Linked DNA regions of Homo sapiens. The protein of the gene in region 3 purifies or fractionates together with the protein of the main gene of each other region. This does not show direct contact. Each region holds a gene or a part of one and is shown on either strand. Other genes may lie near its edges.

The links. The genes of interacting proteins can lie anywhere in the genome.
Region 1: the proteins of RFPL3 (region 3) and DAB2IP purify together in Homo sapiens (affinity purification with mass spectrometry; 3 studies listed by BioGRID and IntAct, with this or other methods). This does not show direct contact.
Region 2: the proteins of RFPL3 (region 3) and TLK2 purify together in Homo sapiens (affinity purification with mass spectrometry; 3 studies listed by BioGRID and IntAct, with this or other methods). This does not show direct contact.

Annotation. Positions count from the first base shown.
Region 1 is NC_000009.12:121,766,634-121,770,133, reverse strand, and holds part of DAB2IP (disabled homolog 2-interacting protein), read right to left. Parts: coding exon 3,404-3,500; intron 1,703-3,403; coding exon 1,501-1,702; intron 1-1,500. UniProt on the Homo sapiens protein: Functions as a scaffold protein implicated in the regulation of a large spectrum of both general and specialized signaling pathways.
Region 2 is NC_000017.11:62,481,825-62,485,324, reverse strand, and holds part of TLK2 (serine/threonine-protein kinase tousled-like 2), read right to left. Parts: intron 1-3,500. UniProt on the Homo sapiens protein: Serine/threonine-protein kinase involved in the process of chromatin assembly and probably also DNA replication, transcription, repair, and chromosome segregation. Phosphorylates the chromatin assembly factors ASF1A and ASF1B.
Region 3 is NC_000022.11:32,356,449-32,360,666, forward strand, and holds the start of RFPL3 (ret finger protein-like 3), read left to right. Parts: upstream 1-1,418; 5' UTR 1,419-1,623; coding exon 1,624-1,996; intron 1,997-3,457; exon of another isoform or gene 3,458-3,803; coding exon 3,804-4,218.

The DNA of each region.
Region 1 (3,500 bases), on a different chromosome or scaffold from region 3:
CTTGGCACCTGAGCCCCAGTGGAGATGGTCCAAGCACACTGCAGGCACCCTCAGGTGCTGGTCAGGCAGAAGGCAGTGCCTGAACCCATCTGAACCTTGCTGGCACGCTTTAGAGAACTTAAGGGGCAGAGGATTCTAGGCTTTGGGGACACTGCCTTCACCTGTTTATGCACAAGCTTCCACAGAGGTCTCTGTGAGAAAACAAAGTGTGAAAACTCATGCAGGCAATAGAGCACGCAATTGAGAGGCAAACAGTTGAGTTTCAAATCCCTGTTGCACCCTATCACCGATGTGACAATACTGATCACCTTCCATTCTTCCTGCCTGGTTGTGCAGATACGTGGACAGCACAGGGGAAAGGTAAGTGGTGGCAGTGACAGTGACTAGTGTTGGCTGCAGTGCAGGGACTGGAACAGGTGGAATGTAGGGTCTCAGCCCTCATTTCCATTTCTCCCTCCTGTGTCTCTCACAGCCAAAGGCAAGTGGATACAAATGAGCAAAAATGATGGCCTTTGATTGCAACAGGACCTATTTCTAGTGAAAAGTCAGGACTAACCTAAGTGTCCATCAATAGGGGACTGGTGAAATAAATAGCATTCATACAATGCAGTCATTAAAAAGTCCCTGGGGGTGGTGGAGATTGCACTGACAAGCAAAGAGGCCCACAACACAGTGGTAAGAAATGCACACAGCAGCATACACAGTATGTTCTTGCTTTAAAACAAACTGAAGAAGGAAAAGAGCTCTATGTGTGTGCGCCTGCATGTGTGTGTGCGCTTACACATGCACAGATCGTGTCCAGAAGGCTGCATACCAGTGCTCTGAGCGGTCACCTCTAGGGAATGGGACCAGGAGGCATGAAGGGCCTTCCAGGCCAGTTTCAGCACCTTACAAAAGTAAGGTGGTCCCTTGGAGCCCTAGAAAGCAACAGATATTCGGGAAGTAGTTCCTGGTAGACCCAGCCCTTAAGTCCAAGAACTAGTTGCTCACTGTGTGGGCTGAGGCTGGGGGTCAGTGAAGTCTCGGGCTAGGGAGGGCTCACTTCAGGTGACTGCAGCAGTGTCAGAGGTGTCTAGGGAGTAACCTTGTCAACTGATGGTCAAGGGCAATCCTAGAAAGGTTTTCGACTTCCTGCTGGACAAGTGGAGGTACAGGGTCTTGAGTCATCTTCTTCATACAGGCGGATTCACGATCCAATTCTATTTCTCACATGCTCTGGCAGGCAGCACAGTGGCGCTTGTCCACTAAAGGCTGAGTGCATGCGGAACACCCCAGCTCTAGTACCCAGAGTGGGGCAGCCTTGGCAGATACTGCTGAGTGAACATAGCATTTGCCCACAGAGAAAATGGGGCCCACAGATCCCCAGTGTGTTCTGACAGGACCTGGCCTGATCATGCCACTTGGGCAAACTCTCTGCCCTCCATGGTTACTCTGGAAGGGGGAACACTAAAAGCCTGATGGCAGCTTTTGGCCCCACCTCCGCCCCACGGCAACAGGCACCTGCTCCAGCTGGCTGACGGCCTCCCAGAGCAGTGAGTGCAGGCTGGAGAGCTCGCGGCCCAGGTCGATGTAGCCCTCGAAGCCGGCTGTATTGGAGAGGGTCTCGGGGTTGGAGATCTCCAGCAGGAAGCGCTGCATGTTGGTCCACTCATGCTCTAGGAACTGGTTCATGAAGGACATGTATTCCTCCTTGCTGCCAAATCTGGAGAGAGGGCAGTTGGGTGAGCACTACTGGGCCCAGGCAGGCCCTGCCCAGGAACTCCCTCCACTGGGACACCACCACCCGCTTTCCCCACTATGGCAGGCTCCCACTCCATTCACTCCCCAAGTCAGCTGAATATGCTCTGACCCAGGTCACCAGGGCCCTCCTTGCTCATGGTAAGTCCAGCGATCCTTTTCTGAACCTTTTATCTCAGGACCTGGAATGTTCTGTGTCCCCCATACACTGCCTGTTAACAGTGTCCTTCGGCTTTTCCTCCAAGTTTCACTGCCCTGGTATGCAGATGATGCTCAATCCCTGCTCAACCCAGGTCTCCCAATGAGCTTTCAGGCATGTATTAATATATCTGCAGGCACCACCCCTGGGAGTCCCTCCTACTCAGCCTGCCACACCTGAAGTCATCATCAACACCCAAACCCATGCCCTCCTCCTGAGCTCCCTACCCTAAGTGGAGACCCCACTACCCATACAGATACACCTGAGACAGAATCTCTGGCAGCTGTCAACTCCTCCCTCTTCCTCATTCCCAAATGGCACGGCCCACTGATTTTGCCTTCTAATCACCCCTAACCTTGTCCCTTGCAGCCACTGCCTCCTGTACCCGCTCCCCTCCCTGCGAATTTTCTGCTATTGTTGCTGGAACCACAGCTATGCTCTCCTTTCACGTCTCCTGGCTACCATCCTGCTCCCTCCAACCCATCTGCCCACTGCTGTCAGGGTGAGCTTTTCAGGATCCAGAACAGAGGAAGGCCATCCTCTCCCTTGTTTAAAACCCTCTGGTGGCTCCCACAGCCCTGTCTGGCCTTCAGGTCCCTGCTGTCCTCTTAGGTCTCATCGCCCGCTTCTCCTGACCTGGCACAGTGCATGGCCCTCCCTGGGATGCCCAGCCTCTGCTCCTCTTGAGACAATGAACGCCTCACCCTGACATGCAGTTGGGGGATCATGTCACCCTGGAGGCTTTCCTGTCTCCTCTCCCAACAAGCTGAGAGCCCTCCTAAGAGGCTCGTGTGTGTCTATCACTGCTCTCCTGCTCATTCCACACGTCTCCCTGGCTGAAGTGCTGAGCGCCACCAGGACTGATTCATCTTGGTGCCGTCAGAGCCCAGCACACAGATGGCCCCAGGATGGGGCTCAATCTATGTTTTGAGAATGAACAACAGTGAGACGACCCAGCCCTTCTACTTCTGCCCACTTGCTCTAAGGATGCAGCCAAAAACACCAATAGTGCTTTATCAGCAAAGACATCCTGATAGCCTGACACCAGGATGGTGGTGCCCAACCCAAGTGCCCAAGCACAGGGAATGGATTAAGGAAATATGGGCCAGTCCCCCTTGGAGGAATATTAGTCATTTATTTCAAAACAGGGCTTAATGAATGTTAAGGGATATGTGAGAATCCTTATAATAATACATTAATTCAAAAAAGCAGAAGGAAAAAAATGTCTCATGTCGTCACCTTTAAAAATTAAGAAACATACCAAAATGACATATACCTTGAGTAGAAGGACAGGGTGTGGAGATTTTATTTTTTAAAAAGCGGGAAGGAGAAGGACTGAGGATGACAGGGACAAAACCAGGGCCTGTTTATGGTCTCTGCTCAGCTTGGGGGCAGAAACACCCCCAGGGCCTGCCCTGTGGACACCAGCCCTGCCCAACTCTGCCTGGTGAGGGAGGAGGCACTCACTTGGCAAAGTTGGCCAGGTTCTGGGTGACCTTGGCGATGAGGGTGAGGGTGCGGGCAGTGCGGTCATCAGGGTACTCCTGCAGCAGGTTGAAGAGTG
Region 2 (3,500 bases), on a different chromosome or scaffold from region 3:
GTTCAAAGGCTGTAGCTACTTGTAACACTCTTGTCCACTAGGAAAGAATCCACAGTGGCACTGACTTTCTTCCTTCTATGGACATCAAAAAGTACTGAAAAATGTTATGAATAGTTAGGAGAAATTCAAGAGACAGCCCAAGAGGCTGAACCAGTCCCACTAGATGGCACCATCACAGGGAAGTCACTCTGCTCTCTTATTTGGAGCTGCAGGGGCTGAAATCTTTTTTGATCTTTGAAAAACAAAGCTGTCATCAACACAGTGATATTCTTTTTTTGTTTTGTTTTGTTTTTTGAGACGGAGCCTTGCTCTGTCGCCCAGGCTCACTGCAAGCCCCGCCTCCCGGGCTCAGCCATTCTCCTGCCTCAGCCTCCCAGGTAGCTGGGATTACAGGCACCCACCACCAAGCTCAGCTAATTTTTTGTATTTTTTAATAGAGATGGGGTTTCACCGTGTTAGCCAGGATGGTCTCGATCTCCTGACCTCGTGATCTGCCTGCTTTAGCCTCCCAAAGTGCTGGGATTACAGGCGTGAGCCACCGTGCCTGGCCCTAACACAGTGATATTCTTATTGGGAAATAATGATCCAAAATGAGAATTCAAAGCCAGGGAGAGGAGTTTTTCCAAAAGCACCCTTTTCTCCCAGTATCATCATCCCCTCCACACCCCCATTTCAAATCAATAGTCTGAGAGGTACGATGTCTTACTGGTAAAAGAAGTAATACAAAGGCTGGGCGCGATGGCTCACACCTATAATCCCAGCACTTCGGGAGGCTGAGGCGGGTGGATCACCTGAGGTCAGGATTTCGAGACCAGCCTGGCCAACACGGTGAAACTCCATCTCTACTAAAAATACAAAAAATTAGCCGGGTATGGTGGCACGTGCCTGTAATCCCAGCTACTCGGGAGGCTGAGGCACGAGAATTGCTTGAACCCAGGAAGCGGAGGTTGCAGTGAGCTGAGATCGCGCCACTGCACTCCAGCCTGGGCAACAAGAGTGAATCTCTGTCTCAAAAAAAAAAGAAGTCATACGAAATGGAGATTTTCTTTTCCCGGCTCTGCAAACTACAGAATTAATTTTTTTCTTCAAGTTTCTTTGTTATGGAAAAAAAAAATACTCTCCTGCTAGTCCTCAAATAACAAATTCATTGTAATCAATATACTTACCGTGACTGGAAATATCAAAGTAACATACGACTACTTAAGCTGGGCACAGTGGCTCACACCTATAATCCCAGCACTTTGGGAGGCCGAGGCAGGCACATCACAAGGTCGGGAGTTCGAGATCAGCCTGGCCAATATGGTGAAACCCCATCTACTAAAAATACAAAAATTAGCTGGGCATGGTAGCAGGTGCCTATAGTCCCAGCTACTCAGGAGGCTGAGGCAGGAGAATAGCTTGAACCCGGGAGGCAGAGATTGCAGTGCGCCGAGATTGTGCTACTGCACTCCAGCCTGGTTGACAGAGCAAAACTCTGTCTCAAAAAAAAAACAACTAATGGAATAAAAACAACTGGAAATAAAGCTGGGTGCAGTGGCTCATGCCTGTAATCCCAACACTCTGGGAGGCAGAGGCAGGTGGATCATTTGAGGTCAGGAGTTCAAGACCAACCTGTCCAACATGGTAAAACCCCATCTCTACTAAAAATACAAAAATTAACAGGGTGGTAGTGGCGCACGCCTGTAATCCCAGCTATCTATAGGCTGAGGCAGGAGAATTGCTTGAGACTGGGAGATGGAGGTTGAGGTGAGCCGAGATCGTGCCACTGCACTCCAGCCTAGGCTAGAGAGTGAGACCCTCTCAAAAACAAACAAAAAAACTGGAAATAGGTAAATTTCTTTTTCTGTACAGAGAACTTCTTTCTATGTTAAAGGTAGAATTTCCTATTAAACAGATAGGTTACTGTATTAAAGTTTTCTGATACCTTAGTTACATGACTTTAAGTTGGGTCTAGACAGCAACATGTTGAATGTCACTCATTCTTATCACTTATGCCCTACTCCATCAAAAGTATACTTGAATACAGCCATCACGAACCTAAAAACAGAACAACAACCCTAATCCAAAGATCAGTGAGCTTAACTATGTAAAATTTGAATACAAACTTACTGACTTACGGGAGGCGGGGGTGGGGGGACCATTTAAACAGACAGATCTGGACATTAGCCTTATGCTCAATCTTCAAGTTAAAAAGACACATCAGAGGTCATTTAGAGATCAATTTAGTATTCAAATATATTGCTCACTTCTATTTGAAGCTACTTCACCTAGATCAGAGAGTTTACATTTGTAAATGTAACTTCAGTATACAACGTCCAGGGGCACAGCCACTCTAAAGTGCCACAAAAGTAAACTGTTTAAGTGGCCAAAGAAATTAAGAATATGTAACAAATCCTGTGTTCCCACAGCACCTTGTCACAGCTCTAATACAGATCTCATCACGGTATCATCTCTCTCTCCCCATACTGCAGATGTGGAGGTACTGTGCTCAAGCATCAGCCCTAACACCTTGCACAATGCCTAGCATACAGCAGGTGCTCAATATTTGTTGAATAAACAAAAACTATCAAGCTGGTTGGGCGTGGTGGCTCATGCCTGTAATCCTAGCACTTTGGAACACCAAGACAGGCAGATCACTGGAGGTCAGGAGTTCGAGACCCAGCCTGGCCAACATGGAGAAACCCTGTCTCTACTAAAAATAAAAAAAATTAACCAGGCATGGTGGTGCATGCCTGTAATCCCAGCTACTCAGGATGCTGAGGCAAGAGAATCGCTTGAACCCAGGAGGCAGAGGTTGCAGTGAGCCCAGATTGTGCCACTGCACTCCAGCCTGGGTGACAGAGCAAGGCTCTGACTCAAAAAAAAAAAAAACAAAACCCTATCAAGCTATCCCGGCTCACCAAAACTGTGAGACCCATCAAAGAAGCCCATTTTTCCAACTAAACCTCAACACGCCTTCTCCTTGGAGAAGCTACTAACTAAAGCACGAGATCAACACCCAGGTTACCATGAGACAGGATTTCTTGAAAAGCACAGAAACAAATGTTGTATCACACTGGTTAAAGATCAAAAGCTCAGCCAGGCACAGTGGCTCCTGCCTGTGATCCCAGCACTTTGGGAGGCTGAGGCAGGTGGATCACCTGAGGTCAGGAGTTCGAGACCAGCCTGGCCAACATGGTGAAACCCCATCTCTACTAAAAATACAAAAATCAGCTGGGCGTGGTGGCGGGCACCTGTAATCCCAGCTACTCAGGAGGCTGAGGCAGGAGAATCATCACCTGAACCCAGGAGGTGGAGGCTGCAGTGAGCCGAGATCACGCCATTGCACTCCAGCCTCGGCGACAAGAGGAAAACTCTGTCTCAAAAAAAAAAATTCAGTAGCTCATACGTTCACACATCTCAAGCCCAAGTAATATGATCTTGGACCAATAAAGCTTTTAAATAAAATATCGTAAATATACTTTGCATACTGTATTAAAATCAAACATTTTACACATTGT
Region 3 (4,218 bases):
GCAAGTAATCCCCCCTTACACACACTAAGAACCCAGGGTGAGTGTCAAATTATATGTTAGCTAAGAAATGAAGAGAGGGAGCAGGATTTCTGGTTGACGGTGAGGATATTTATTAAGGGTTTACTGGTACAAGGAGAGGGGCTGGATGATTTGGGGTGGGAGGGGATCTCTGTTCTGGGATCCTGCAGCTCCAGGCCCCCATGGGTGGGGTGAGGGTCAGGGACCTAAGAACATTCTTCAGGGGCCACTGTCTTCTCCACAGTGCTCTCTTGTGTGTGACCTTACAGCTGTAGCTGCTGCAGGACCTCCACTGGTCGGGTGTCAGGCTCAGGTCGCTTCTGGCTGTGTGCTTGTTGCTCTGTTTGGAGGTCTTGGTGACTTCCGTACCCTGGGTGACAGGGGTGCTGTTTGCCTTCCAGGCCACCGTCACAGCTCCCGGGTAGAAGCCACTCATGAGACACAGCAGTGTGGCCTTTTGGCTTGGAGCTCCTCAGAGGAGGACGGGAACAGAGTGACCAAGGGGGTGGCCTTGGGCTGGCCTGTGGGTGGGCGAGCGGCAGGAGGTCAGCATCCTGTTGTGTACCTGGGAGCCCCCTGACCTCAGTGTATGAAGAGGGGTCAGGCCCCCTCAGTGCCAGTGTAGGACCCCTCAGACATGGTCCACAGTGTCTCAGAAGGGTGTGACATGAGGTTCCTAAAACAACTCTCTGTCATTCAGGGAACCTCCGAGCCTGTCCCCTGCCCACCAGTGGTGGCAGTTAATTTGGTATTCATTTCCAAGGCTGGAGAAGGATGTAATTTTTTTTCTTTTCTTTTCTTTTGGTGAGACAGGGTCTTACTGTGTTGTCCAGGTTGGAGTGACCTGGCGTGGTCTCTGCTCACTGCTAATTTTTGTATTGTTTGTAGAGATGAGGTCTTCCTGTGTTGTCCAGACTCGTCTCAAATTCCTGGGCTCAAGGGATCTTCCTGCCTTGGCCTCGCAAAGTGCTGGGATTACAGATGTGAGCTACTGCATCCAGCCCCCTTTTTTTTTTTTGAGATGGTGTCTCACTCTGTTGCCCAGGCCGGAGTGCAATGGCACAATCTTGGCTCAGTGCAACTTCTGCCTCCCAGGTTCAAGCGATTCTCCTGCCAAAGCCTCCCAAGTATCTGGGATTACAGGCGTGTGCCACCACGCCTGGCTAATTCTTTTGTATTTTCAGTAGAGATGGGGTTTCACCCATCAGGCTGGTCTCGAACTTTTGATGACCTCAGATGATCCACCCACCTTGGCCTCCCGAAGTGCTGGGATTACAGGCATGAGCCATCGTGCCCAGCCTCTCAGCTCCTAATTCTTATGTTCATCAATCAGTCTCTTGCTGGGGTTCCCCTAGGAGGTGGTGAAATGACCCCAGCTCGCTGTTCCTCACATGGGTGCTGCCACGTCACTGGCTCAGGCTCAGCTGCTGGGTCACCAGGAGAATGGACCCTTCCTCCACCTCAGCTCAGAGCACAGTGATGATTCGTGACTTTCCCAATAGAACTTCAAATCTCTGAGGACGGGGGGTGGGGGGATGTGCTTGAGTGTTTGTACTCATGGTCTTGTTCTCGGAGTGACAAAGCTGGAACACAATACCTCTATGCATGAAAAGGTTGTCACTTGTCACAACTAACAGGCTTTCACCTCAAGGAAATTTTCTTCCCTTGTGTACTTTTCCCCTGGCAGTGGACATGGCTGCACTCTTCCAAGAAGCAAGCAGCTGTCCCGTCTGCTCAGACTATCTGGAAAAACCAATGTCCCTGGAGTGTGGATGCACCGTCTGCCTCAAGTGCATCAATTCGCTGCAGAAGGAGCCCCATGGGGAGGATCTGCTTTGCTGTTGCTGTTCCATGGTCTCTCAGAGGAACAAAATCAGGCCCAATCGGCAGCTAGAGAGGCTGGTTTCCCACATCAAGGAACTGGAGCCCAAGCTGAAGAAGATTCTACAGATGAACCCAAGGATGCGGAAGTTCCAAGGTAAGGAATCTGTATACCCTGCCCCCTTCCCAAGACCAGACCAGGAAAAATCATCTGTGCAGTTGGCCCCTCATTCCACATGGGGATTAGCTGCTGTCTGGCACCTAAAATTGAGATGCTTCATCATCACATTCTCAGCCCTGACAACACATAGAATCACCTGGTGATGTCAAAAACAAAAACAAACAAAAACCCGATGTCTATGTCATGGGTTAGACAAGGGATTCTCTAAACTTAGTGTGCTCAGATTACCTGGGGATCTTGTTAAAATGCAGATGCTGAACTGGGAAGTCTCAGGATTGATCCCGCTGGCTTGGGGACTTTGCTGAGTAGCAAAAACATAGAGCAACTGAATTTGAATTTCTCTCTAGCAAAGGTTCCCATGAATCTGACATTAAGATGGGCCTGGTATTTCTAATGCACAGTGAATATTGGCACCCATTGTACCAAACAACCTCACCCCAGGGTTGAGAAGAGTTGGGAATGGAGCACCTATGGTGTTTGTTTCTGTGAGTGGGGAGAGTTGCAGATATTGGTCTCCTCATCCATGCGCCATGGGCTCCAACAGTGGTCCTGGCTACAGAAAATACTATCACTCTCCATAACTCTGGGGAAAAGGGACATTTAAATGAAAAGGTTATGGTCAGCCTGGGCAAAGAATTACACCTATAAATGGTGGTGGGCCCCTATAATGTCCCTGACACTGGTAGCTTCTGCCCTGACACCCATGATCTCTACTCATCCATCTACCCATACCTGACTGTCTCTCTGCTGAACTATGGAGGACAGAGATTCACCCTGTCCAAGTCATGTTTGGAACCCTCTTCCTCCTTCCTTGTCCATGTCCATTCCCTAATTCACCATTAAATAGCAATCAATCCCTAGTCTTGACTAGGGTAGTCTTACTGTGATCTATAAAATCTATATTAGTGATCATATCAGTTTTTTGACTTGAAGGATAATATATTTTGTAGATTTTTTTTTTTCAGAATGTTCTGGACAATTAATTTTCTCTAGGCCAGATCACACTGCCTCCTCCATGAGAATTGGCGGCTTCACCTGTCAGTCACATACCCAATGCCTTAAATTATTGACCTTTGTATTTTCTGCCCTTATTCTCTACAATCAGTCAGTTATGACAGACAACTTTCAAATACCTTTCTCTTGGCTCCAAAATTTACCATTGTTTTGCTTAAGGTCTCACCTTCCATGTAGGATAGAAAACATTCTTTCATCTAAAAGGTCCCCCTCCTCCACCTGGCCTTAGAGCCTCCTAATGTCCAGGACCAGCATCTCTGTCATCACATTGTCAGCTGCAGAGATACCCTATCTGCTGTCAGAACTGTGCACAATTAATTTGTTTACAAACATGGAAAACAAAAGCCTGGAATCATGCTCTATATACTGAATTGGAGCAATAAAATGTGGAAGCAGAAACATATTTAATATTGACCACTTGCATTGTCTTAATTATCATTTATTTGTTCACACATCAAGGTGGTAGAAAGGGGGGCATGGTGTCTGCCTTCAGAGACCCTCCACTCTAAATGAAGAAAAGTTCAGTGAAGCAAACACGTGACGTAAAGTAAAATAAGAATTGCTACTGTGAATAAGAGTCACGTATTGCCACAAAGCATACCTATGAAAATTTGAAATAGGGAAGTTTCCTCATGAAAAGTTTTGATTTTGGAGGAAGAAACAGAATTAAAGAAACTAAAGTCAGGAGATATTTGGGCCTTTGAAGTAGAAGAGAGGCATGGGGTTGGCTTCTGTCCACTTGCTGAGCAACTTGTTTTCCTTTTCACAGTGGATATGACCTTGGATGCCGACACAGCCAACAACTTCCTCCTCATTTCTGACGACCTCAGGAGCGTCCGAAGTGGGCTCATCACACAGAATCGGCAAGACCTTGCCGAGAGATTTGACGTGTCCGTTTGCATCCTGGGCTCCCCTCGCTTTACCTGTGGCCGCCACTACTGGGAGGTGGACGTGGGAACAAGCACAGAATGGGACCTGGGAGTCTGCAGAGAATCTGTTCACTGCAAAGGGAAGATCCAGCTGACCACAGAGCTTGGATTCTGGACTGTGAGTTTGAGGGATGGAAGCCGCCTCTCTGCCAGCACGGTGCCGCTGACTTTCCTCTTAGTAGACCGCAAGTTACAGCGAGTGGGGATTTTTCTGGATATGGGCATGCAGAACGTTTCCTTTTTTGATGCTGAAAG